4 separate regions of the Homo sapiens genome follow, and all the other regions are reported to be linked to region 1. The links are microRNA targets in miRTarBase. Many come from high-throughput screens and were not tested one by one. Region 1 holds a microRNA gene; each other region holds the end of a gene's coding sequence.
The links. The annotated mature microRNA hsa-miR-190a-3p reads CUAUAUAUCAAACAUAUUCCU and lies in region 1 at 2,004-2,024, shown strand. An mRNA with a match to its seed (bases 2 to 7 or 8) in the 3' UTR can be bound and repressed. Matches are read on the target gene's strand: a 7mer-m8 pairs with bases 2 to 8, a 7mer-A1 pairs with bases 2 to 7 and ends in A, and an 8mer does both.

Region 2: the mRNA of LHFPL5 is a reported target of hsa-miR-190a-3p. Seed matches in the 3' UTR shown: 7mer-m8 at 5,057-5,063, 7mer-m8 at 5,059-5,065, 7mer-m8 at 5,117-5,123 and 7mer-m8 at 5,119-5,125.
Region 3: the mRNA of FBXO48 is a reported target of hsa-miR-190a-3p. Seed matches in the 3' UTR shown: 7mer-A1 at 5,718-5,724, 7mer-m8 at 2,671-2,677, 7mer-m8 at 2,669-2,675, 7mer-m8 at 2,667-2,673, 7mer-m8 at 2,665-2,671, 7mer-m8 at 2,663-2,669 and 2 more.
Region 4: miRTarBase lists DTX4 as a target of hsa-miR-190a-3p. Seed matches in the 3' UTR shown: 7mer-m8 at 4,079-4,085, 7mer-m8 at 4,077-4,083, 7mer-m8 at 4,075-4,081, 7mer-m8 at 4,073-4,079, 7mer-m8 at 4,071-4,077, 7mer-m8 at 4,069-4,075 and 2 more.

Annotation. Positions count from the first base shown.
Region 1 is chr15:62,822,005-62,829,126 of GRCh38, forward strand. It overlaps MIR190A (microRNA 190a), which reads left to right and starts at 1,953; the gene lies at 1,953-2,037. All of the region lies in intron 54 of TLN2 (talin 2), which reads left to right.
Region 2 is chr6:35,818,325-35,825,425 of GRCh38, forward strand. LHFPL5 (LHFPL tetraspan subfamily member 5) reads left to right here. Exons shown (of 4, transcript NM_182548.4): 3 at 1,113-1,139; 4 at 4,658-5,746. The coding sequence ends at 1,123. Among named protein-coding and RNA genes, the nearest start is that of LHFPL5, 17 kb to the left of the region's middle.
Region 3 is chr2:68,457,877-68,464,980 of GRCh38, forward strand. FBXO48 (F-box protein 48) reads right to left here. Exons shown (of 4, transcript NM_001024680.3): 3 at 6,964-7,104; 4 at 1,546-6,494. The coding sequence ends at 6,333. Among named protein-coding and RNA genes, the nearest start is that of FBXO48, 5.9 kb to the right of the region's middle.
Region 4 is chr11:59,203,474-59,210,595 of GRCh38, reverse strand. DTX4 (deltex E3 ubiquitin ligase 4) reads right to left here. Exons shown (of 9, transcript NM_015177.2): 9 at 2,008-5,920. The coding sequence ends at 5,687. MPEG1 (macrophage expressed 1) reads left to right here. Exons shown (of 1, transcript NM_001039396.2): 1 at 1-2,086. Among named protein-coding and RNA genes, the nearest start is that of MPEG1, 5.9 kb to the left of the region's middle.

The DNA.
Region 1 (7,122 bases):
TGTCAGTTGACACATTCGTTCTCCTGGAGAATTAGCCTGGTGCTAATTTAACATTAACACTTCACCATATTCTAAGAGCTCCTGTTTCAATGTCTTTCCCTTTGTCCTTCCGCAGGGTCCTTCTGAGCTCTTGTCTGAGTCCTGGTTTCCCCGTGTCTGGTCGTTCACTTCACGACTCCAGATGGGAAAACAAAATTATTAAAGTTCCTACCCCATAGGATTATTGTTATAATAATTAAATAAGATAGTATAAGAACACTGCCTGACATACAGTGAGACTTGGTAGATAGTAACTATATCACCATTATTATCACCATCATCACTGAAAATGTGTGTCTGGGACTTACTCCCTAGGAAATGCCTGAAATAAAAATTATTCCACTGGCCCCTGAAGAAAGAAAACCAGGAAGCTCGCGTTGTTCAGCTGCCAAGCCTGTGCCAGGCAGTCTTCTGGGTACTTTATGGGAGTCACTCATCTGATCCTTGGAAAAAGTCCATTAGAATCAGAAGCACCAAGAGGCGAATTACCTTGCCAGGGTCCGACCACTGTCACTCAGCTGGGAGGGCTATGTATGGCCCTGGGTGGCAGTTTCAGTCCATACCAGCCCCTGTTTCCCACCCCATTGTCAGAGAAGGCTTGTCTAGTCCCACAAAGGCCATTTGTAGTTTATGTGTGCCCTTAGAGCTACTCCTCGAAGGAATATTATGCAGCTATAATATTATGCAGCTATGAAAAATAATGGTTGCTAGGACTGTGTAGCACGAAGAAAATGCTCATGGTATAACAGAAAGGATGCAGAATTATGTACTTATTATGATTACAACTCTAAAAACTCACAGATGAAGAAAATAAGTAGGGAATGTACAAGAATGATGATGGAATTGGGATGATGGAAGGGTCTGTGTTTTAACATTTTATAAAACAAAGGTTTAAAAAATAACAGCACCTTAAAAATTAATGACTGCTGAAGTAGGCCTGTGAGGACTCCCTACAGTACTCTAGGATCATATAGCCTTTGTGTTTACATTGAGGGTTTTTACAGGAAAGCCAAGGAGTCCTTCGGCCAAGGTCAAGGTTAACATAACTGATGATGTGAATCCTTTGTTTGAGGGTTCCTACCTTAGCTCACTCCCATCGTATTAGGAAGGGTGATGGGTACTTCTAGAATGCTTCACAATGGTCTGAAGTCTTTCTCTGCCTGATGGCCAGAGGTGGATATTATCTATGAAACTGTTTTGGAAAACCTGCAACCCAAACCATAGTTTTTGTGCCTAATAGGGCACATTGCAATAACTTTTGCATGAAATATCTTCCTTGCCTTTATAAAGGAATTTATTTCCCCAATTAAAAAACAATAACAACAATCTGCACCAAAATCAGCCAGTCTTTTGAGTTGAATCACTTCTCTCCATTCTCTCCCAAAACCTTAAAAAAATCCTCAGGGTACTGTCAGTAAACAATTGCTTATTACATCCCTATAACCCTACCCTGGTACACACACATGCCTTCAGTATAAAATGGATGTGTGTTCCTTCTGGGGAGTATTCACACTGCTTTCAGGAAGAGTTTGGGGAGAGACAGTAATTTTGTCTAAAATGCTCTGCTCACCACCGTCTCAGGTTGCCTGTTTTTAAAGGAGAATGGCTCATGGTCTTTGATGATGATTCTGGTACATTTCCACCTCAGGCTCTTAAAACTTAAGCATCACTTTTTGCCTGGGATCTCCCAGACATGCACCGTTGAATCTGCTGTTCACCTGGGGAGATGAGAATGTCAGTGAGCGCTGGTGCATGTGCTGACAGTATTGTTAATGGCGCCGTTTCCACATCTGCAGGCAGACTTGTGCTCCAAAGACAGTTATCGGAGTTGCTGCAAAAGTGACCACCCCCTGCAGCCGTAACCTTCAATACTGTGCCTAGTCTCGAGCTCAGTCAAACCTGGATGCCTTTTCTGCAGGCCTCTGTGTGATATGTTTGATATATTAGGTTGTTATTTAATCCAACTATATATCAAACATATTCCTACAGTGTCTTGCCCTGTCTCCGGGGGTTCCTAATAAAGTTTATAAGGCAACAGGAAAGAACACGTTAAAATCACAAGTAGATTTAGAAGATGGAGCACTCATTACAATTCATGTTATCTTCCATTTCTTCTTATAGCATTTGAGACCTGTATCAGTATTACTGGATTACTTGCTTATTATAGAAACAATAAGTGTTGATGTTTCATAAGAGCCTGGGGTATTCTGTGTGGCTTAGTTTTGTGCAGTGATGAATCCTTAAGGAATTCAATATGCTTGGTGGAAAAAACGGTTCCAACCCATGTCTGTGACACAGAATAAAGGTCAGGATTATAGCCTCAAACACATCTAGATTCATGTTTCATTTTGGTTCATTTTTATCCTGATCTTCAATTTAGAAGTTCATGTCAGGGTTTCAGCAAAAATTCAAGGAGCACAGATCAGTTTTCTATGACTTCCCTTTCCACTCACAGTAACAGAATGTATAAAGCAAATCCTCCATACCAGCTGCATGGATACTGAGTCAGTGAGCTTTGTACAAACCTTGGATATAGGACTAAATATATCTCATGAAGGTAATATAATGTTGACTGAACTCTTGAATTTCCTGTTATAGGTTAACTTGTCAGTGGAGGTTGGTAATATTTAGAATAAGCCAACAATCGGAAAGTAATATCATAGCCTAATTGACTGTGGCAGGAAGTTTGGGATTATGATATAGAAAACATTTTTTCTGGTACATAACAGCCTTCTTTGGTTGGTTTTGACCTCTTCCTTATAGAAAAGCCTGTGAAGTATGTGTGAGTTCATTCTGAGTTCTCTCAACAAACAAAATACTTTGTGAGCACTGCTTTCTGGAAAGAGAACTACTGTTCTCAATGTTTTGGAGGAGAAAAGGTGTAAGCAAATGGTTTAAACAGGTAGTCATGAAAGCTTCCCCTTACTGTGTCTAGAAGTCATTGCCACATTGCTTACAGGTGAATGCATAGTGACAGGGTCACCAACAGCAACATCAGAGAGGTGATGACACAGGAGAGGGTCCTGTAATGTTGGAGTCCTGGCTTCTGGAGTTACATAATGGATCCTGTCTCTGGAATCCTTCTCCATTGAGAAGCGATCTGTGTGTGTTGGCAGGTGCTCTGTCAGGCGGGTTTCAAGATGCTGCCCCAATCAGTCCCTCCTTCACACAGCTAGAGAACACCGGCTTTGGTTTTGAGTCCAGTTACATTGTTTGACTGAAATGGCAAATGGCCATGGAAAAGAGACAGCAAGTTATTACGAACAAAGAAAAACATGGTTTCAAAAGGACCTGCAGACGAAGCCCAGTTGTTTGAATTGATGTGATTTTCTTGTTTCTTTGGGTGACTTTGTCACTGACCAGCATGTTCTCTGTAGTGATTAATATGGTGAAGGGAAAAAGGAACCAACTGTTCAGGAAGGAGGAGGACAAATACAGCATTTTCTGTATGGCTGCACTTGGGCTTTGAGTGGCACTCATTGGTTCCAGACCAGGAGCATACAGGGTGTGAAAAGCAAGTATGGGGCCGGGCATGGTGGCTCACACCTGTAATCCCAGCAGTTTGGGAGGCCAAGGTGGGCGGATCATTTGAGGTCAGGAGTTCGAGACCAGCCTGACCAACAGCTGGGTTTCACCCAGTCTCTACTAAAAATACAATATATATATAAATATAAATATATATAAAAATATATTTTTATATATATTAAATATAATTATAATTATATATTATATAATATATTATATATTATAATATATATTATATATTATATTATAATATATATTATAATATATAATATATATAAATATATTATATATATATATATTTATATATATATATAATAAGTCAGGCATGGTGGTGCACGCCTGTAGTCCCAGCTACTCAGGAGGCTGAGAATCGATTGAACTTGGGAGGCGGAGGTTGCCGTGAGCCGGGATCGTGCCACTGCACTCCAGCCTGGGTGACAGAGTGAGACTCGGTCTCAAAAACATAAATAAATAAGAAAAGCAAGTATGGGAGACTCCCCTCCAGGGTAGACCAGTAGGTCCTTGTCAGATCCTTCACAGACACAGAAAGGGGGCTTAAGATGTAGGGAGTTTATCTGATACAGCTTGGGAAGAACCCTGTTATCTTTTGTCTGTGCTTTCTATATCGACATTCAAGGGCCCCTTAAACAGAAATAGTGATTAAAAGATTATTTCAGTGGCGTTGCTTTCCATTTTGAACACAAAAGTAAAGCAATGGATACTATGGGAAAACTACTCCCAAGATACTAATCATGCAGGTGCGGACCTTTTCCAGCAGACACTGCATGAACTCGCGCGTATTCCTCGGATGCGGAGGGTGTGGTCCCTCCCCAGTCACAGGCACAGCCATTTGGCAGTTTCTCTGCCACCCATTTTGCCTGTTTAAGGTCTCTCTGGAGCTTTCCCTGAGACAAGGCCAGCTGTCCATGCCTGGCTCTTAGCAGTTCCAGTTGTTCTGGGAGGTGTACCTTTTGTTTGAACTAATAAAGGTGGCAGTCCTGAAGCCACCCCATCCATGGGTCCTCCAGAGGAGAAGCTGATCTAACCTTTGCACAGTTTGGGGCTTTGCATACAGGCTAAGGCCTCCCTCAAGGCACCTCTCAGTTCAATACCAGAAGCAAACTAGTAGCAGCCAAACTTGCAACAACAAAAAAAAAAGAGAAATGTGGCTGCCTGCTCCACTCCGGCTTCCAACTGGCAGGAAAATGCCTCACTCCTGTTGTGGGAGTTCTAGACACTGGCCTCCTTTTTTCCCTCAAGGACATTTAAATTAAATGCAAAATGTTCACACTTTAAAAAATATATATCCAAGAGGGTTTTTTTAAAGTTTCTGATGCACTATGACCTTATTTTTAGTAGCAGGCATTCTGCAAGACTCTGAGTAACACAGAGCAAAGCCTGAGACCCCACTGGAAAGATGACACGGGTGGTTCTTCAGTTTGTGGAGCCAGTTGTGAGAAGGGCGACCATTGTGTTTTTAGCTCTCAACAAAGCATTCCCTCAAAGTAAGTTTTCAGGGAGGGAGGCAAGCCCTTTGGCCATCTCCTATGCATGCCTTATGCTCCTTCACCTTCAAGTTCATTGGCGGAAGGAGCTGTGGGGTTGCAGGGCATAAGAAAAGGCCAAGAAAAAGACCATGGGAGGACATTCTCTTCCCCTGCCCAACACTTGCCCAGGACCTGACAAGGACAGTGAGCAGGGGAAGTGGGTAAGGACGTTGAGGAGGAGCGGGGGCAGTGGGGGATGTTGGTAAGGATATTGAGGAGGAGGTCAAGAGAAATCAGAAGAGAAAAGGTAGTTCCTGCTTATTTTAGTCACCGCCTTCTAAGAGAAGTTTAATTTGGAACTGTCCATGTCTAGGCAAAAGGACCAGGAAGGTTGAGTTGCTCCTCCAGTGACAGAAAACTGAGTAACTGATACCTGGAGAAAGGGCAGCGAAGACTCCACAGTCACATAGTCAAAGTACAGAACAGTGACTACCACCCGGATTGTCCCACTCCTGGTTGGGTGCTGAGAGAGGAGCTGGTGCCCATCTATGCTGTTTGGTACCTGACGCTTACTGATTTGTGGGTTTTACTTATAATGAATTTAGGCTGTAATCAGAAATAGCAAGAAGAATTTTTATTGGAATTATGGATACATAACAGGGTTTAGACAGAGAAACAGATTAATTTAGCCCCAAACCTGAAAAAAACAATTTTTGATAATGAAATTGCTAATAGTTTTTGAGCATCTCCTATGAGTCAGCCATGCTTTACATATACTAATCACGTGCTTGTAATGACTCCATCAGATAGGTTAGGAGGGGAAGTAGGCTTAGAAGATGAATGAATTAGTGTGAAGACCATGTTCTCAGAATCCATGAAAGGCCAAATGTCAAAAGAAACATGAGGAAAGGCTGTCCCTTTTACCTTCTCCACTTTCCACACCACTTCCCCTACCACCACCATTTCCTCTTCCAGGGGACATATAGCTACTGAAACTTTAAACCCATCAGAGCAACATAAAGGGGTCCCAAATACTCTCCCAACTGGGAAACAGGGGAAGGGAGCCAACCCAATATATAGCCTTTCCCAAGAGGGATCTCACCAGACCACTGACTTTTTAAAGGGTGAGCAAGGAAGGTCAGCATGCAGGGAAGAGGTCAACTACAGGGTACTCAGACCTTTCTAGAAGCTACCAAAAAGCCCAGGTAGGGATAAATCTGTCCTCAGCAAGAGTTGGCCAGACAGCCCAGGAAAGACGATTGCTTAGAGCTGATGGGCACCTGGCCAAATAGCCTTTTCAAATGAAGGGGAAGGGGGAAAAGAACAGTATATCAAAGGAGAAGTTAATTCAGCATGCAGAGGCAGCAACAAACACCTTCATTAGGCAGAGTAGAAGCTTAGTTTGTACATCTGTTCACTCTTTTTCCCAGTGCTGTCTTGTTACATAAGAGTGCCTCTTGGTAAAATGCCACTGTGTTTACATTTGTATGTCCATGCATGACTAAATGTCACAAACTGTGAATTCCAGTTGAAGGCTGCAAGTAGAGTGTACAATTAACAACTCAAGGCCTCAAACAGGGCAGGAACTTGCTCATAGCTGTGTATGCATCTGTCCACCAGGGCTCAGGAGTGGATGCTAATGATGTGGATGCTTACTCTGTGTATTTCTCCTTCTCCTACCTTGTGCGTTGTGCTCTGGCTGAACTCTGGAACTTGGGAAATGCATTTTGAATGGATATATTCATTCAGCAAATGTTGATCATCACATGGGCTCCTCTGCCTGATTTTGTGCTAGAGAAACATAGGTTGAATAAAACACAGTCTCACCCTGGAGGGGATCACAGGCTGGTAGGTTTAAGTTAAATGGTGTTTGTTTTCCTGAGTCCAGGCCAGCATTTCCTACAGAGTAGTGTGTAACCACCTCTGTAAGAAATACAGATTCCTGACTCCCACCCCAGACCTACCAAAACAGCATCTGCATCTTTAACCAGATCCTCAGGTGATTCTGCAGTGAGGGCTATCCATTTATTTATTTATTTATTTATTTTTCTTTAAAATTTTTTTCTGTTTG
Region 2 (7,101 bases), not on the chromosome of region 1:
ATATATATATATATATATATATATGTATTTTTTTTTTTTTTTTTTTTTTTTTGAGACAGATTCTGGCTCTGTCACCCAGGCTGGAGTGCAGTGGCATGATCTCAGCTCACTGCAACCTTCACCTCCTGGGCTCAAGTGATCCTCCCATATTAGCCTCCCAAATAGCTAGGACTACAGGCCCATACCACCACACTTGGCTTTTTAAAAAAATTTTTTTTGTAGAGACGGGGTTCCACCATGTTGACCAGGCTGGTCTCAGAATCCTGGTGTGCACCTCAGCCTCCCAAAGTGTTGGGATTATAGGTGTGAGCCACTGCATCCAGCTTGTTAGTGAATTATATTAATTAAAAAAAAAAGGAAGTGCTGAGGATCTCATAGCATATATAAAGCACTAACAATGCCTGCACATTGCAAGTGATTAATAAATTAGTTCTCCCTTTTTTTTTTTGATGCCACAGTAGCAGATCTGATAGTTCTTTCTCCTTTCTGTCTTTCCAGCATATTCACTATTTTTTTTCCTTTGAGACAAAGTCTTGCCCCGTCATCACCCGGGCTGGAGTGCAGTGGCGTGATCTGGGGTCACTGCAACCTCCGCCTCTCATTTTCAAGCGATTCTCCTGCCTCAGCCTCCCAAACAGTTGGGATTACAGGCATGTGCCACCACACCTGGCTAATTTTTTGTATTTTTAGTAGAGACAGGGTTTCACCTTGTTGGCCAGACTGGTCTCGAACTCCTGGCCTCAAGTGATCCACCTTCCTCAGCCTCCCAAAGTGCTGGGATTATGGGTGTGAGCCACTGCATCGGGCCATATTCATTTTTTATATCACCCATCTGCCCAACCAATAACAGCTAATGTGCTTCAGCTGCCTAACAATGCCTTTAGGCACTGGAAGTACAGTGGTTAAGGGAAATCTAAGTTGGAGCTTATGGTCTGGTAAGGGAGACAATCATGCGATACAGTTACAAGCTGATAAATGATATGAACAAAAAAGTGCAAGCTTTCTTGAGAGTAAGAGGAATCTGATGTAGTTTGGAGATGGAGTAGTGTGCAGGAAATTATCCTAAAAACGAGACTTGGTAGTAACGTATACTGTTCTCTCCTTCATTACAGAGGAGGTGTGAAGCAGCTGAAGGGTCGGTGAGTAATTCTATGGGAGGGTGGTCTGCGTGCCCTTAGAAAGGCTGGGGCTCTCTGCTTCCTTACTGAATCCTCAGGCATCAGGACACCAGGGGCTGGGCTGTAAGGCTGTGATGCTGCTTGGGGAGAGAGGACCAACACCCCACTGGGGCAGGAGCTATTTGGCCTCTGAGACCCTCACTGGGGAGCAAACAGGAAGCCTTTAGTTTTACCTGTGTCTTTTTTTTTTTTGAGATGGAATTTCGCTCTTGTTGCCCAAGCTGGAGTGCAATGGTGCGATCTCGGCTCACTGCAACCTCCACCTCCTGGGTTCAAGCCATTCTCCTGCCTCAGCCTCCCGAGTAGCTGGGATTACAGGTGCGTGCCACCATGCCTGGCTAATTTTTTGTATTTTTAGTAGAAGCGGGGTTTCACCGTGTTAGCCAGGATGGTCTCCATCTCCTGACCTCAGGTGATCTGCCTGCCCCTGCCTCCCAAAGTGCTGGGATTACAGGTGTGAGCCCACGCGCCTGGCCTTACTTGTGTCTTGAAAGGCGGAAAAAGATCAGGGAAAGAAGAAATAATTTCAAACACAAATTCATGTTTTATGGAGCCTGGCACACAAGAACAGACTGTTTTTAGAAGTCATTATTGTAATTTGGACCCTTATTTTCAGAAAGAATTTTTAAGTGATTTGTAAGAAACATACTAGAAAACCTAATAAAATAGAAAATAAAAGTCATAGACAGAAAAACAAATATTCAAAAAAGCTATACTAATAGTATTACTGTCTTGAGTATTAAATTTAGCTCTGATTCCTCATAGCCGAGGCAAAAAGAAAAACAGTAAGTTAACCAGTTTTAATGTCTGGTTTAAAAAGAAGCGCAACATATTCATTTATCTTTTAAGTTTCCAAACATTTGTTAAATGTGATTTAACAAGAACATTCAGGAATGCATTTAAAAAAGAAAAAGAGGACCGGGCGCGGTGACTCACGCCTGTAATCCCAGCACTTTGGGAGGCTGAGGTGGGCGGATCACGAGGTCAGGAGATCGAGACCATCCTGGCTAACATGGTGAAACCCCGTCTCTACTAAAAATACAAAAAATTAGCCAGGTGTGGTGGTGGGCACCTGTAGTCCCAGCTACTTGGGAGGCTGAGGCAGGAGAATGGTGTGAACCCAGGAGGCGGAGCTTGCAGTGAGCTGAGATCGTGCCACTGCACTCCAGCTTGGGCGACAAAGCGAGACTCCATCTCAAAATAAATAAATAAATAAATAAAATAGAATAAAATAAAATTAAAAAAATAAAAAAGAAAAAGAAACCCTCACAACAGTGTTGCCTCCCTAACAGCTGCCTGGAGGACCTACAGCCGACCAGGCGCTTTCTGTGGGAAGGAGGGTTTAGCTCCATTTAAGCTGTTTTTATTTTTGCAAAGTGCCTTCCAATCCTTGACCACATATACTTTAAAAATAATCATACATAAAATTGTCACCTCCACCTCCTGCACTTATTAGAGCATGATTCTCAAACTTCAGCGTGCATACAGTCATCTGGGGATCTTGTTAAAATGCAGATTCTGCTGGGTGCAGTGGCTCATGCCTGTAATCCCAGCACTTTGGGAGACTGAGGCAGGCAGATCACCTGAGGTCAGGAGTTAGAGACCAGCCTGGCCAACATTGGGAAACCCCATCTCTACCAAAAATACAAAAATTAGCTGGGTGTGGTGGCATGCACCTGTAATCCCAGCTACTCAGGAGGCTGAGGCAGGAGAATCGCTTGAACCCAGGAGGCGGCGGTTGCCATGAACTGAGATCCCATCACTGGACTCCAGCCTGGGAGAGAGAGCAAGACTGAGTCTCAAAAAAAAAAAAAAAAATGCAGATTCTGATTCAGTTGGTGGGGTGGGTCTGGGGCCGTAGACCCTGCATTTCTAATGAGTTTTTGGGTGACAGGCTGCTCAAACAGGAATCACATTTTGCATAAAAAAGCATTAGAGCATAATCTTTGTGTGTGTGTGTGTGTGTGTGTGTGTGTGTGTGTGTGTGTGTGTTCTTGACACGGAGTTTCAGTCTTGTTGCCCAGGCTGGAGTGCAATGACATGATCTTGGCTCATGGCAACCTCCGCCTCCTGGGTTCAAGCCATTCTCCTGCCACAGCCTCCCAAGTAGCTGGGATTATAGGCATGCGCCACCACACCCGGCTAATTTTGTATTTTTAGTAGAGACGGGGTTTCTCCATGTTGGTCATGCTGGTCTCGAACTCCCGACCTCAGGTGATCCTCCCGCCTCAGCCTCCAGAAGTGCTGGGATTACAGGCATGAGCCACCGTGCTCGGCTCCCTTTTTTATGTTTTTGCAATATTTTTAATTTAGGTTTTTCAAAGCCAGAAACTCCACAGCACTGGTGTACCACAATTTTTTTTTTTTTTTTTTTTTTTTTTTTTTTTTTGAGACAGGGTCTTGCTCTGTTGCCTAGCCTGGAGTGCAGTGGCACAATCACAGCTCATTGAAGCCTCAACTTCCTGATGCTCAAGTCATCCTTCCACCTTAGCTTCCTGAATAGCTGGGACTACAGGCACATACCTCCTGCCCAGCTATAATAATTTTGTTTTTTTTGTTTGTTTGTTGAAGAAACGATGTTTTGTCATGTTGTCCAGGATGTTCTCGAACTCCTGGGTTCAAGTCATCCTCCTGCCTTAGCCTCCCAAAGTGTTGAGATTACAGGCATGAGCCACTGCGCCTGCCTGGTGTACCATTTTTTAAACCAGACCTTGGTTATTAGACATTTAGGGTTGCTATCATAGATAACAAAACTTTTTGCTTCTGTTGATAATATCCCAAGTGGCATTACTGAATCAAAGGGCAACCACACCTCTCTGTTTGCCTTTTTTTTCCTCACACTACATTTTAAAAGACCTAAGTTTTTACTTGAATGACAATCAGTACTATCTTACACATGAATGAGGAAATTTGCATGTCTAGGTAGAACTGAAGTCAAAATTTGAGCATACATAGGGAAGTGTTTATTATTTATTTTTGATACATAGTTTTTTTGTTTTGTTTTGTTTTTTGTAATTTATTTTGAGATAGCATCTCGCTCTGTCGTCCAGGCTGGAGTGCAATGGTCTGATCTCGGCTCACTGCAACCTCTGCCTCCCAGGTTCAAGTGATCCTCCTGCCTCAGCCTCCCAAGTAGCTAGGACTACAGGCACGTGCCACCACGCCTGGCTAATTTTTTGTATTTTTAGGAGGGACAGGATGGTGTTGATCTCCTGATCTCGTGATCCGCCCGCCTTGGCCTCCCAAAGTGTTGGGATTACAGGTGTGAGCCCAATTTTGGTATTTTTAGTAGAGACAGGGTTTCACCATGTTGGCCAGGCTGGCCTCGAACTCCTGACCTCAAGTGATCCACCCGGCTTGGCCTCCCAAAGTGCTGGGATTACAGGCGTGAACCACTGCACCCAGCCTATATTGGTTTTTAAAATGTCAGATTTTAAACTCTTGGAATCTTTTGTTCTTTTGTTTTTCTTATACCACAGGTCATCTATTTCCCAGACACAGGAAAACTAGGGAATCAAATTCTTCAGAGATAAGAACTTGTTCTTCCAAGTTTCCTTGTTCCTGGCTACTATAGGCCTGAAGCCTGAAGCCTTTTATTATAACACTAAAACTGGACAGTCTCCTGAGACAAGACCTCCTACTGTACTCTTTCTGGGGAAGCAGAACTGCAGTGACCCACTTCAAAGATATTCAGAGGCTGAGCGGTGCAGGGAGTGCTCAGTTGCTGGGGATGGGATCCAAGTCCATTTCTTAGTTCCACACAGCAGCAAATCGCTTCACCTTCTTGAAGCCTCTCCTCTGTAAAGCGAGAGGGCTAAATGGGTCCATCTCTAGGGGCCTTCCCTCCCAGGTCTGTGTCTGATAGCATACACACACACATATATATACACACACACACACACACACACACACACACACACACATACATACACACACACATATATATACACACACACACACACACACACACACACACTCTCTCTCTCTCTCAAACACACACAAATGCCCAACCAGCTCTAAGAGGGCACTGAAGAGGTGGCTGGACATGTGCTGGGTCATTTTTAGGGTGAGGTGTAGGGGGTCTTTTGCTTCTCCCTTCTCATATTTTGTTTTCTTATTGCTGCTCAGAGGGGGGTAAGGAATGGAGGGGCCATCAGAACTTGAATCCTTTAACATCCACCAGGAAGTTTTATGAAGAGTGGGTGATAGGATCTAAAATCTCTGCAGACTTTTTTCCTCCCGGGAGCCAAATATCACATTTCCTTATGGTGCCCACACTGACTCAACCAGAACTGGCTACCAGCTTCAGAAATGTGTTACTTATGTTCAAGTAATTTGTTATAGGAATAGATGACATTTTTTTTTTTCAAAAACTTTGGATTTGGCATATAGTCATCTATAGGGGGATTGGTTCCAGGATCCCCTGCAGATGCCAAAATACATGGATGCCCAAGTCCTCAGCTAAAAATAGCGTAGTATTTGCATATAACCTATGCACATCCTCCTGTATACTTTAAATCATCTCTAGATTACTTATAATACCTAATACAATGTAAATGCTATGTAAATACTCGTACTGTGTGGCTTTTAATTTGTATTTGTTGTTGTATTGTTATTTATTTTTGAGACAGAGTCTCGCTTTCTTGCCGAGGCTGGAGTGCAAAGGTGCCATCTCAGCTCACTGCAACCTCTGCCTCCCAAGTTCAAGAGATTCTCCTGTCTCAGCCTCCTGAATAGCTGGGATTACAGGCATGTGCCACCATGCCTGGCTAATTTATTTATTTGTTTATTTATTTATTTTTGAGACGGAGTCTCATCCTGTTGCCCAGGCTGGAGTGCAGTGGCATGATCTCAGCTCACTGCAACCTCCGCCTCCCGGGTTCAAGCAATTCTCCTGCCTCAGCCTCCCGAGTAGCTGGGATTACAGGTGCCCGCCACCACGCCTGGCTAATTTTTGTATTTTTAGTAGATATGGGGTTTCACCATGTTGGCCAGGCTGGTCTGGAACTGATCTGCTTGTGTCGGCTTCCCAAAGTGCTGGGATTACAGGTGTGAGCCACCGTGCCCGGCCTGTATTGTTATTCTTTACTGGCTTTTCTTCCTGAATATTTTACATCTGTGGTTGATTGAATCTGCTTAGTGGAACCCACAGATACGGAGGACCAGCTACTAAATGGTGAACCTTCAGTTGGCCTCCAAAGGGGAATTCAATTTAGGTAATAGTTCATTGTAGCAAAAGCCAAGACCAAAATCGATTCTTTAGGCTGTCCCCTCCCTGGGGGGTGGTGCATAAAAACAGGATTTTGTTGATTGTCTGCAGTGAACAATTCTGAGGAAAAGGTGTTTTTTCTGGTCCTTGTCCAGTTAGTTAGTAAAGAAACTACCTGGGTGTGCTGTTCTCTCATAGGGGAAGTGTGGGTAAAGAGCTGAACAGATGAATCTTGTTGCTTGATCAACCGATCAGTGATACAGGAACAGTTTTCCTATCTTTGGCTGTCAGCTGTGTGTTTGGCCAATGCACTGTGACAACCTGCTCAGTCACTAGGAATGAGTATCCCAGTGTTGTCACAGTTAAATTGGTGGTGGGAACTTCCATAATGGGATTTGATCTTGTCACTTGGTCCATGGCAGCTAGTTTATGAGAATGATCACATTTGTGTGTATATATATATATTTATATTTATATATATTTTTTGAGACGAAATCTTGCTCTTGTTGCCCAGGCTGGAGTGCAATGGCGCGATCTTGGCTCGCTGCAACCTCTGCCTCCCAGGTTTAAACGATTCTCCTGTCTCAGCCTCCCGAGTAGCTGGGATTATAGGCGTGTGCCACCACATCCGGCTAATTTTGTATTTTTTTTTTTTTTTTTTTTTTTGAGACAGAGTGTCGCTCTGTCACCTAGGCTGGAGTGCAGTGGTGCGAT
Region 3 (7,104 bases), not on the chromosome of region 1:
TAGGAGTGTATTTTTAGGAGATACATGCTGAAGTATTTAGGGGTGAAGTATCATCATGTCTGCAACTTCTTTTCAATGTTTCAGCAAAGATGAATAAATAAACAAAACAAACATAGAAACATGTTAACAACTTGTATTTCTAGGTGGATGGTGTACAAAATAGTGATTTGTCATATATTTTTACTTTTCTGTGGGTTTGAAATTTTTCCAGTGAAAAACTTGGAGGGACATTCTTGGCTCTTTCATCTAAGTTATTCATTCTAAGTTTCTGAAGTCATTTGATAAACATTTATTGAGTACCTACTATGTATGACACATTCTTGTAAGTGCTGGGAAGTGGTGATTAAATAGATGGAAAACATCATTCTCTTTCAGTTTCCTCATCCATAAAATGGATATAGAGTAAGCATACATCGTGTAAGAACAATGCTTGGTACAAGAAGGCATTCAATTAATGTCAGCTGTTATAATTAATCAGCTTCGTCCATTGTTGATCTGATTTCATCAATTTGATGTTTTTGGTCTTAAACTCTAAATAAAAATGTGTGATCTTCCATCTTATGTATTCTTCCCAACCCATTTCCTTAAGTTGCTACTCATCTTACTTTCATTAATATTACTAGGGCATTTGAAGTCTTGGAGAGAAGACATGATATAAAGTCAAAGCAAAGATGAAGTTAAAGTGGTCAGGGGTATATTACATTTTTCTTTTCTTTTGACACAGGGCCTCACTCTGTCACCCAGGCTGGAGTGCAGTGGTGCGATCACAACTCACTGCAGCCTCAGTCTCCCAAGCTCGAGCAATTCTCATACCTTAGCCTCCTGAGTAGCTTGGACTACAGGTATGCGCCACCACACCTGGCTGATTTTTAAAATTTTTAGTACAGACAAGGTCTCACTATGTTGCCCAGGCTGGTCTCGAACTCCTGAGCTAAAGCAATCTGTCGGCCTCAGCCTCCCAAAGTGTTAGGATTACAGGTGTGAGCCATCGCACCCAGCCATAGTTTTAAAATTAGGTTTGTACATATGCAAGTAGCCTCAGGTCGAAAGTTTATATTCACAGAGATTTTACTGATGATTATGTTCTGGTCTAAGATTGGGTTATAAACCAGAAGAAGCTAAAAAAAAAAGGTTTCTAAATTTATTTTTCTAAATACTAGATCTTAAACTGATTTAAAACACTCAAAATTCCTTAATACTCTTCCCCAAGAATCTTGCTTCTTGTACACAGGGTGCACACTTAACATGTTATTTTATCTATGAGTAAGAACATTCCTTCCTTCCATGCTGCTCCACCCACTCATGTTTTCAGATGCTAATGGCTTGGCCTGATAAATGCATGGTTCATTCTAAGCCCATACCATAAATTTATCACTAAGTTCCAAAGGTTTCCTTTCAGTGTAGACCTTGATCATAGCACATAATTTGTTAGTTATTTTAGTGCAATAGCACTAAAAAAATCGAAGTTAATGTTCATTCACATAATTTGCAAAGCTAATACTTAAAACTGATGGAAGTAATTCAATAATTCAAAATAATAAGTGATATTTTTGAGGTTAAGTTTATTTTCAAGAGTTCAAAACAATAAAACAAAACATTTTTATTTTCCTATTTCCCTCTTACAGGTTTGGAGAAGACTGGAACAATTATTCATACATTTGTATTACTATCAAGCATCCCACATACCTTAAGGATTGTATACTGCATTTTGATACAATCTTCTTCACTAACAATATAGTAAATTATTTTTATACATTCTGTGTAGGATTAAAATAAATAACTATAGAAATAATTTAACAAATCTTTATAGAGCATCTAGTGTGTGCCAGGTTTTGAAGACACAAAAATAAATAAAAAATGGTCCCTGCCATTAAGAAGTTCACAGTGTAAAGGGGCAAACACACAAATAAAATAGACAATTTAATGTCATATGACAGTTTTGAGAGAGGTCTATACAAAGAACTACAAGAACATCTAAAAAGTCACTTAATCCAGAACAGTAGAAGTTATGGATTGTTTCCAGGCCAAGATGATAAGTTTTACAATAGATTTTTGCCAAGAAAAGAATCAATGGTGGGGATTACTCCAGGTATATCAAACAGCCTGTGCAAAGGCAGAGAAGTGAGAAAATTTTTATGAAATAGTTTTGTAAGACTGAACAGAAAGATATAGGGTGGGACAGTGGTTAGAGAACAGGCTGGAGAGGTAGGCCAGACCACATCATTAAAGGCCCTATGGGCTTTAGTGGGGAATTTTGATTTCTACCTGTATGCAGTCAGGAGTTTAAGTTAGGGTGACGTGCTAAATTTGGGGTTTAACAAAGACTACACTGCTAACAGTAAAAGGAAGGAACTGGAGGCAGGAACACCAGTAAGAGGTTATTTTAGAAATCCCAATGTCAAATAAGGACAAGAATTAAGTAATGAGGCAGAGATAAAGATGGGGAAGAGGTGAATTACTTAGATATTTGGATGATAAAATCAAGTAAGAATTGACTCGGCTGGACTTGGAGAATGATGGAGAAAAGTAAAATATGGTGATTTTCTAACAGGACATGCCATTCACTGAGATAGGAACTGGAGGAAGAACTACTTTTATGAGATGGTAAGTTTTGATTCAGGTGCTTATATATAAACTATCTTTGGATATATCAAATATTTTATATATATATATATATACTTATACTATCTTTGGATAAAAATCCAAAAGATAATAGCATATGTATTTCTGGAACATCTCATGGAGATCTGATGTTGGGACACGGACATAGACGGCATTAGCACCAACAATGGTAGCTGACATAGGAGTTGTAGATGGGATCACCAAGGATGTTAGAGTATAGAGACGAGATGACAACAGGTGGAACTTTGGGGGAACACTAACATGTAATGAGTAGGTGAAGGAAAGCGAGTCTTTGGAGGAAACTGAGAAGACGGGTTAGAGTAGGGAAAGAAAAGTCCAAGAGACTATAGTTCCAACCCATGGAGGAGAGAGTTTTAAGAAGTACTTATGTGTGTCAGTGTGAGTGTTTATGTGTGTCAAATATATTAACAAGTAGAATGCATCCAGTGGATTTAGACATTAAGTCACTTGTAATTTGGATACCAACAGTTTCAACCATATGGAGTGATGGCCATATTATAGCAGATTAAGACTGACTGGTGAGGAAGTCAGAGTGAAATCTAAGATGTTAATGTAAGCCACAAATAATACATATTTGAAAAATGGGCAACGAAACCACATCAGGTGGGGGTCCCAGTATGATGGTGAAACTCAATTTGAATTAATTTAGGTAAGCAGATAAGGAATGGCTGGGACCAGGGTCTGGAATATAATCAGGCCTCTTTCCCTGCAATTGTTCTTTCCCCTGGTGGCTCCACATTCTCTTACTTAAGATCCGTTTTCGTTTTCTTTTTTTTTTTTTTTTTTTTGAGACGGAGTCTCGCTCTGTCGCCCAGGCCGGACTGCGGACTGCAGTGGCGCAATCTCGGCTCACTGCAAGCTCCGCCTCCCGGGTTCACGCCATTCTCCTGCCTCAGCCTCCCGAGTAGCTGGGACTACAGGCGCCCGCCACCGCGCCCGGCTAATTTTTTGTATTTTTAGTAGAGACGGGGTTTCACCTTGTTAGCCAGGATGGTCTCGATCTCCTGACCTCATGATCCACCCGCCTCGGCCTCCCAAAGTGCTGGGATTACAGGCGTGAGCCACCGCGCCCGGCCAAGATCCGTTTTCTTTGTGTGGCAGGGAACAGTTTCATCAGCAAAGAGGAAAGGGCTTCTTTCTTCCAACTTATGAAAAGGGGGGATTGGGTCATGTTTCCATCCTTGGACTAAACACGGAGGCTGGGAAAAACAGGATAATGTAAAAAAAAAAAAACAAGAAAACAAAAAACCCAGCTGGGTGCGGTGGCTCATGCCTATAATCCCAGCACTTTAGGAGGCTGAGGCAGGTAGATCACAAGGTCAGGAGGCCAAGATGGTGAAACCCCGTTTCTACTAAAAATACAAAAATTAGCTGGGCATGGTGGCGGGCGCCTATAATCCTGGCTGCTCGGGAGGCTGACACAGAGAGTTGCTTGAACCTGGGAGGTGGAGGTTGCAGTGGGCCAAGATCATGCCACTGCACTCCAGCCTGGGTGACAGAGTGAGACTTCATCTCAAAAAACAAAACAAAAAAACAAAAACAAAAAACTGCCCCCCACCCCGGCCAAAAAAAACCACACACTTGGTTGGAAGTGAGAAGGGTGAGTCTCCCTAATTAGGATAACTTCTATTAACAGATGATGATGATAGATTGTAAGGGGGCTGGACAAAAATAATAAACATCCATTACAAAAAAACAGCTAAAAATATATGTGTACATTTACTATTGTACACAGATGCTATTCAGCAAAATGCTTATAGCTTTAATTTTTCCCATACTTTGAAAATTTCCAAGTGCTTTCTTATCTTTTATGAAATAAAATTAGTAGGATACCTTTCTTTCTTCCTTTTTTTTTGAGACGAAGTTTCACTCTTGTTGCCCAGGCTGGAGCGCAGTGGCGTGATCTCTGCTCACTGCAACCTCTGCCTGCCAGGTTTAAGCGATTCTCCTGCCTCAGCCTCCCAAGTAGCTGGGATTACAGGCACCTGCCACCACGCCCGGCTAATTTTTGTATATTTAGTAGAGACAGGGTTTCACCATGTTGACCAGGCTGGTCTTGAACTTCTGACCTGAGGTGATCCACCCACCTTGGTCTCCCAAAGTGCTGGGATTACAGGCGTGAGCCATGGCGCACAGCCCCTTTCTTTTGTTAAGAGTAAATGGGCAGAAGAGAATGTTGTTGGGTCTAGAAATTATACTCTATGATCATCAGTGGAATTGGAGAGAAGACATAGGAAGAGACAGGCTATCAGTCTTCAAATATCTGGCAATCATAGACAGGAAGGACTGAATCAGCCTGGTTCTAGAGGGTGGAAGTGGGGCTAGAAGGCAAACGTTACAGAGAGGTGGTCTTCAGTGCAAGCCTAGACTACAACTGGACTGTTCTGTGACATAACAGAGATGCTATTAGTAGAAGTACAGGATTTCAGCTTGGGCTGGCTGACTGACAGTGTTCCTATTGAGAAAATTACTGAATAGTCCTGGACACTTGACTGCCTGATTTTCAAGGACTCTTCCAACTCTAAGAAGATAGTAGGAGACAATTAATTATCTACTGCTTGATTCAACATACAGAATTTGCATATAGTGGGGCATCTTTCTAATATTTGCCTATTTGTTAAATATTGGTTTCCTGGATTCTTATATTTAATGCTATAGAGAACAGTTTTTAAGAAGAAAACCCCACACTAACTAAAGCAGTTTGTAGACACTTTTTTACTATGGTGGTAACCACAGATTCAGAATAAACAATTTGTTATAGTGAGTAGCATATAATCTGTTTTTATGAAAAAAGAGAAACAAAAGTTTTTAAAAGTTAAAATAAAGGTTCCTAAAAAGTTATAAACTTTAACAAAGACAAGTGTTAAGGATTCTTTAGAATAACAGTTTTCTTTTTAATATGGAGAAAACAAAAAGGAGCTGAAAGTCCTTTGTCTTGCTATCTAAGAATAGCACACTAGATGGTGCTATAAGGCTGTCAGAAAGAGAGTTTTACCAGGCTAGTGTGGCATTCTGATGGTAAAGTGTTCTGGAAACTTTCCACTTACTTTCAGCTCCTGAGAGCCGTTCCAGGTTTATATAAAATTAATGGGAATCTCAATTGGACAAACTTTAGCCCTGAGATGACATTAACTTAAAACTAAACCACAGGCTTAACACATTAAAAATAGTTTCACTATTTGACATTTCAATCTGATTCCACTGAAATAGAAATGTTAAAGTCATTAAAATGTCAATGTATTAATTTAAATGTATTGCTATTAATTTCACTTAGCTAGTCTTCCCATGAGCCTAGTTATAACCACCACTTAATGAATCTTTAAGTCAGTTTAAAGTGGCTTCCTGAAATTTTGAATTATCATTAAGCTGAACATACAAATCACTCTTACATTTAGTATTGCAAATATATTAACACAAATACATGAAACATTGTATTTGGAAATCACTCTATCAGTATATTATTTCTTATAAAAATAACATTTCATGATTTTTCCACATTACAATAAAACCAGAAAAATTTTACTAAAGTGCAAAACAAAAATAAAGCTTTACTTTTATAATAGTTCCATTTCATTTTCTTTTAAAAAGGTGAACAACAAAATGAACGAATAAAGATATCGCTTTTGCAACCTAAGAGTCATTTAAGTTTTAAACTTTCAAAGACCTGAGATTTGTGATTTTTTTTCCCCTTATCTTTCCAGTTCTGCTTCTAGAATTTCCCCCCATGTATCTGCATCCATTGGGTACATGATTTTTTCTGGTAGGCTAATGGGAGAACAAATGTTGCTGTATCTGCCACTTAGCCATTCGTGTTTCACTTTACTCTTCTGGTAATTCCTCAGCAGTATCACCTGAAAGAGGTAAATCACCGTTAAAAAAGACTGTAGTAGGTGGTTGGTTAGTGAATGTGTTTAAAGCAAGAGAAGCAGATTGACAGGGCTGAAAAAAAGAGTATTTACATTTATATATACGTACATTAATAAATGTATGTGTCTGTGTACGTGTGTGTATGTATATGTGTATTTATACTGAGTGGCATAAGGTGAAGTGGAAAGAAGGAGCTAATTCCCTTCTGGTTAACGCAGGAAAATTCCCGAATTTAGAATTTTAAAAATGCAAAAGGATAAATGAAAGATAGTGTGGAAACAGTGTGGTTAGCAGGAAAAGACTAATAACTTTAACTCATTTCCAAGAGTCAACACACTGTCTGTGTTATTCTGCATATGTAATTCTGACTCCTCCAAGCAGAAGTTAGAATTGGCGCAAACCTGCTATCATAACGCTGTCAACAACACTGCAGATCGCAAAGATTAAACTTACCCTCCAGGAATAACCACTTTCTAGATCATCATCTATTTCTCTTCGGCACACAGCTCTTACAGTCATGCAGTGAGGTTTCCATAAAGAGTCACTGTTTCTTATTGTGTCATTCCAGCTCCTGCATGTCAATGAAGCCCTGCA
Region 4 (7,122 bases), not on the chromosome of region 1:
AGGTCTCTGGGCCAGGAAATTCATACTGTTACATGGATAAGGTTGGGATTGGGGAGAGGGAACAGTTGGGACTAGAAGCAAAAGTGATTCTGGGACTAAAATAGGAAGCAGATGTCCTTTCCCAATGTGTGTTGCTGTCTTCACCTGAATGCATTTGTGTAAAAATAGCGGAGGGACAATGTGAACATTTGTATTTGGAAGCTATGAATTTACTCTGAAGTTTGCAGTTGTTTCCAATTTGTGAGCTCTAAGAGTTTCTGCCTGTAAGAACTACTCTCCTTTTATTTTGATTTTTAAAAACCTGTCTGAATTTCACACTCTTAGAGCCTGGAAGAGCCCTGAAAAGACACAAGTCTTGCCTGGCTACTGCTTTTTAACTTTGAGGGCTCTATGTTGACAGACTGTTATCTCCTCTGGGTGACCTCAAACATCTGAAAAGAAAGATGTTGCCTGTGCCAATTCCACTTTTTCCAGCTGCCCCTTGATGAACACTCCCTTATACCAGACCACTCTTGGACTTCTGACTGGTGTCATCAAGTCCTCAGAAAATATTTTAAGTTATTTTAAGTTATTAAGGAAGGGATGATTTGGAGACAAGGAGTAATGAAAGATGGGTAAAAACTGGAAAAGATTCTGGTGCTAAGTACTACCCCTTCATCTTCCATGGATGGTCATTACCTTTCCTGTCCTCCTGTTATATGAACACACACACACACACACACACACACACACACACACACGCACACACATACCACATTTCAATAAGTCTTCATTGTTCTGGGTCCTTACCTTTCCTGTCCTCCTGTTATATGAACACACACACACACACACACACACACACACACGCACACCACATTTCAATGTCTGCATGGTTCTGGGGGTAACAAAGGCAAGAAGTTAAAGTAAGACCACATTTGAGTATTACTTACTCTGTAGAATCAAAACAGAGTAGTTAACACCAATTATGCAAACTACTTTTTTTTCCAGCAGAAAGGGAGCTGACATGATCAAATCCATGTTTTCAAATGAACTGAAAAAGGCATCCAGCACCACTTATAACACATTTATTTCAGTTCCAGGCTGACAGCCCTGGGGCATCTAGCAGGATGCATAATTGTCATCTGGTGAGAGTTGGGACTTTGCTCAATTTTAATACCAATCTCTCCTGATTGTAATTACCTCCACTACTTTCATGATCCCCCTACAATATTTTTTTAAATGATATATTTATTCACTGAATCAAATGTCATTAATGAGTTATCTTCTGTGGAGGATGACTGTTCTCTTTGTTAATGTTCACAATCAAGATCTTGGGCTGAGAAGAGGCCCTTCACCCAAGGAGTTTGAAGTATCACAGTGTGTGGGAAGGTGGGAACCAGGATACCCATTCATTTCCAACCGAGACACAGAGAAGTGAGTCACAGAATTTGAGCCCGCTCTCTTGACTGCCCAGCCAGAGACACTGATTTCTGTAACCTCTTCACTTGATCCTGCCTCTTAAGCATTAAAACATTCTCCTAAACCTCTGAGTGTTTTGTGGGTTCTGGGTGTTTTGTACATTTTAGCCAAGCTAACCACTTGTCTGCAAGTACTGACTTTCCTATGAATTCTTTGAAGATTATTGAGTCAGAAAGGAAAAATATAGCCCCAAATTCCCAGGCTTTTAATGCATTACATTAACTGCCTATTGAAATGAGAAGTTCTTCACAAACTTGTATACCCACTAACAAGATTGCACATAAACATGCATTAAAGTATATACTAAGAAACCCTCTGTCCAACGGCTCATGCATATGAAGTCCGAACATGGGAGTTTGCCAATTGCATTCATCAAGTCGTTTTGCGGAGTCAGATCCCTGATGGAAGAGCTCACAGGCTCTGCCTTCCAAGTCCTGGGTTCCTAACTGGTGACCTTAGCCTGGGGTCTGTGGGGAGACCAACCCTGGCTTCCAAGAAAACCACATTCCATGGACTATCAGAAATAGACACAGATTTGGGTGACAAAGCTGGCTCTGTATTTGCATTTTATTTTTGTGTTCTTGTCAGTTTGGGAATGATTAATATTAAACATTTATTTGAGAAACAACAGCCTGTAAATAATTTAAACACACACTATATTGCAGCCAGGCAAAGAGACCTTTAAAAGTGAATATTCGTGATTCTAAAAGTGTTTTTCTCCCACACGTTCACTTACTCATTTTCCCAGCAATGTGGTCTGTTCCTTTAGGCAAACAAAGTCTAGCCAGGTCAAATGTGTGGGTGGGTAATATGTGGAAAATTTGTTTTTAAGTGGTTGGGGAGGGACTTCCCCCACCCAGTGGCAGGGCTTGTGGTTGCTTACAGACTCAGGGAGGTAACCCAAATCCCTCACAGATAGGTGCACTAATCTACAAACAGCAGAAGGCCAACAAGAGTAACAATTTTGTGGTTGTTCATTTGCCATTTATTGTTCTGCAAAGACACCTCATGAGCACCAGGTGGCGATGTCCTTTCACGGAGCAACACCAAAGACTTCAAAAACATTCCAGTTACAAACAGAACAATTCACTTAGGACATTCACCTGCCTCTCCCAGAACCCCCAATCTAATGCCGGGGACCACAGAGAAGGAAAGGGGTCAGGGGTCCTTTCTTGTACCAGTGAGCCTTCCCCCAGTTTTCTCATGCACACAACAGTGCAATACCAAGACGAGTACTTTTGACCAAGTATAAAACCACAGAGAAGACCAAAATGTACAAAAATGGGAAGAGAATGAAAACACAAAGGCACACGCAGCCACAAATACACAATTAACCTTTTAGGGGATGAGCATCTGACGAGGTTTGTCTCCAATCCAATTTGTCATCCCTGGAGACTCTGGAAGGGAGAAACTAGGCTGCTGGTGCTAAGACCATGAAAGGGAAGGCATGGAATCCCCTACTTGGGCCAGGAGAGCAGAGCAGAGCTTCTAGTGGGAAAACACTCTGTGTCAAGGTAGTAGATGCACAGGGCTCAGCTGGCAGGGTTCTCACTGAAATCTAGACTGCACCTTTCCAGGTTGGCACAAGACAAAGGGCAGAGGAATGCTCCCCGCCTTGCCGGGCACAGTGTTAGAAAGGAAATTCAAGATCCCTACTGCCCAGAAAGCCACACAAGAACAGCACGAGGATGAGGTAGCCCCTACTGGGCATCTGCAGAGAGGACAAGAAAGGGGGCACAGACACAATCAAAAGCCCAGGGGAAAAGGCTTGAAGGTATGAAGTCGACCTCTCCAAGTGGTATTGCCACAGGCACAGCGGCTCCCTTTCCATCTTGAGTCTTCTTCCTTCTGCTCCTGGCCACCCCCTTCCCCACCTATACCTTCTTCTCCCTGATGTGGGGAAACTGATCTCTCCCCAGTGCCTAATTCCATTTTGAAAGTCTGTCTTCTTTTCTTCCCCACCTCCTACTGCCTCATTGTGTCTTTCTTCCCATGGACCCTCAGCCTATTTCTGCATCCTTGCGGCCAAGAAGCTCAGCAGATACTTGACCAGTGTGCGAAGGTAGAGACGGCATGAGGCTCTCCAAGTAATCTCTGTACATGGTAACCTGACAAAGGGCATGGGTGTGATATTAAACACCGCAGGGATGTCTCTTCCATTTAGTTCAGGTGTTTCCTTCCTAACTATGGCAGGAAATTGCCCTGTGGTGCAGTAACCTTGGGACCAGTCTCCTGGTCTGCTGGTGAGATACAATGGCTGCCTGCCGACAGGAGACACAGGGACAAGGATGGCAGAGCAATTCCTCCCATCAGAGCTCCCTCTGGTGGAGCTGATCAACATCCCTGTAACCATTTGGAAAGAGAGCAAAGGCTCAGCACCAGCACATCCACAGAACTGGGTGACAGGCAGGTGAATCGACTGACAGGCAGGTGAATCGACTATCCACCCCAATGTCAAAATGGCTGGAGGCCTAACAGCAAGCAGCTATGGGGCTGGCTTTATGAAAGATTGGCCTCCAGTTCCCATCTAAGTACCATTTTTGAAGGTTCTCTTGTTTCCATTTTTCTAGCATCAAAAACCTTCCAAATATTATGAAATATATATGCATATATATATATATATATATACGTCAAACCCCCAAAACATGAGGTATATAAATTCAAATTAGTATCCAGAGGAACTTCCCCCAAACACATAGTTCAAAGAACCCACTTTCAAAGGGGGAATTGGGTTTCCCTTCTTGATCCCCCCTGTTCTCCTCCCTGGCCCCCAATTCGTTCCTTACTGGGAGCCAAAGGCAATAAGAATGTTGGGGAGGAGATAGGGTCTTGGGACACAACAAGATGCAGATTGGACCAGACCATATTGTGATCCCAACTCCATTAGGAATGAGCTAAAGAGATTCTCTCCCTGCTGTAAGTCAATCTATAATAGATGAGGGAGATGAGGGACCCAGCAGCTCTGGGCTCTGATTAGCAAATTTGCATGGAAACAGATTGAAGCCTTCATAGAAACAAGACTGGATGGAGATGAGCTCTGATCCAATCTTGAAAAGAAATATAAAAGGATGAGTTCAGCCCTCACCTCATTGCATCTCCCCAGGCACAGTTCTGTCTTCATTGGGGTTTCAGTTCACTACGGGATAGGTTGGCAACAGGTGAGGAACGTCAAAGGACCACAGCCTGGCTGTTGGAGCCCCATCAGAACTGGGGTTTGGCATCTTGCAAAACAGAGTGCAGGGACATGACGGGCCTTCCCTTCAAGCTGGCCCAGCAATGCACACACGCCCACACACACACGCGCATGCACAGACACAGAGGGCACAGAGCCCAGCATGGGCTCCACTCACAGTGACTCGATGAAACTCATGGAATCTTTGAGCTGGTCTAGAATGAGTTGGGAAGAAGGCTGTGGGCTCCTCTCCCTGAGGACAGTTCAGATGCTCAGTGGGATGCAGGCTCTGGTTTGATCAGAGAGGGTCTAGAAACAGCATCATGGGATGCCACTCCAAAGAGGAACCCCAGAGTCCATCCATCCACATGAGAGAACCAGATGCCTCTTTGGACAGGTGAGAGCTGTGAGGAGGAGAGGAGGGCCCAGAGAAGCCAAGGACTGTGATGACAGCAGAATGTGCTCCCAGAGGCTTTTCCTTCTCCGACCCTCTTGGGAAGAAGTGCTTCCTTGCTCTACACCAAGGCATCAGTTTCTGATGTCACAGCAGTTTAGTGATTCACCCCTTTGCCCACCCCCCAACCTTGCACAGTGAGAGCTCCCTGCCTCCAGCAGAGGGAGAATAGCAGAAACTCCAGTCTCAAAGCAGAGTGGAAGTAGCAAGAAGCCGGCTGAGGCAAGAAACCCCGGCTTCCCAAAGCCAGGATATGGAGTGCCTAAGCACTGCCCATACCCTAGGTGTGCTGACCATGCCCCTACTTGGGAGGTGGGGTAGGGAGGGGATTCCTGCCTACCCAGCACCAAAAACTCCATGGGAACAGACCCAGGATGGCCCTCATCCCATCTCCCTTTGTGTTGGATGAGATTTATGAATGATGTCGCTATATTCAGTCTGGCTCCCACTGTGGTTGGGAGGGATGAGGGATGGACACAGGGCAGGAGGGGAGGATAGAAAGTTGGGAGGGCAGGACACCAACTTCTTCTACATTGACTCACTCTCCTCACTTCCTGTCCTGCAGTCTCCATGGCCCCTCCCACCTCAAAGCTTTTCTGGCCTCAGTCCTTCTCCTGGGCAGTGCTGTCCTCAGAGATGCCCTGGGCAGCCAGTTCAGCCAGCACATTATCCAGGTAATTGGCATCTGGGTAGCCATGGCCAGTGAGATTAGAGCCAAACTCTGTCTTGTGGTGGACCTCATTCCAGATGACGGTGTCTGACTCGCCTGTGGTGCTGGAGGTGCCAATGGCAAAAATGAGGCGGCGATCCCAGGCCACGAGCAGCAGCTTCAGAACCTAGAGGGATAAAAGTGGGACATGAAAGGCAGACATTAATTGGCAGTCAAAGACTATCCCTTGGACGGTAGAGAATCCTCCCAAGGGCCCCATCCCTTCCTGCATCATGATACCCTAAGCAGCCCAGGGGAAAGAAAGAGATTTGGACTTGGAGTTTGGGAGCTACAGGCTGAGTCCTGGCTCTGTCACTGAATAACTGTGTGACCTTGGAGAAGTTATAGCACCTCTCTGAACATTAATTTTTTTATGAAATGGCAATGGTACAATCTGCCTCTAAACGTTGTGAACATCTTACTGGACACTCCATGAAAAGTATTTTCACACCAGTGCCTACAACGCACTAATTGATAAATGTTATCTGCCAACATAACGGCTGCATTTTGAAAGACAGGATCTAGGAGTTGAAGGCGCTTATGATCTGAGAACTTCTGAAGTTCTGCCCTTCATTACTGCCACCACTACCTCAATGTAGTATTAATTTATCCAAAGCTGAAGCTGTGCACTATTTTTCTAGTGACATCTTGGAGCACTCTGACTTTCTCGAGGTGAGAAAACTGAGGCTCAAAGAAAGTTTTGGGGCTTGCAGAATGTTCTAAATCAGTTAAATTAAAAAAAAAATGTTTGTTGAGCAAGACTAGTGGCTAATGCCCTGTTCCAGGCCTTGGTCAGAGTAGTGTCCAGCATGAAGAAAAAGCATCCAGTGAAAATGTCTTGGGTTGAAAACTGAACTACTGTAAACATGGTATGGGCTGGAGGAGAGGAAACCATAATAGTATTAGTAATGAAAGCAGACATTAGAAATATGAGCTGCTATTTCCTGAGTGTTTACTTTCTCAGTGTTGGGCATTGGGACATATAATCGTTACAGTAATCAGATGATATAGGTATGCCCATGTGCCACACATAGTGACATTTTGGTCAATGACTGAACACATATGCAATGGTGATCTCACAAGATTACAATAGAGCTGAGAAATTCCTATTGCCCTGTACTTACTATACTGTACTTTTAATCATTATTGTAGAGTGCACTCCTACTTATTTACGAAAAGAAAAGTTAACTGTAAAACAGCCTCAGGCAGTTTCTTCAGAAGGTATTCCAGAAGAAGGCATTGTTATCATAAGAGATGACAGTTCCACTCCTGTTATTGTCCCCAGGGCCTTCCAGCAGGATAAGATATGGATGTGGAAGACAGTGATGC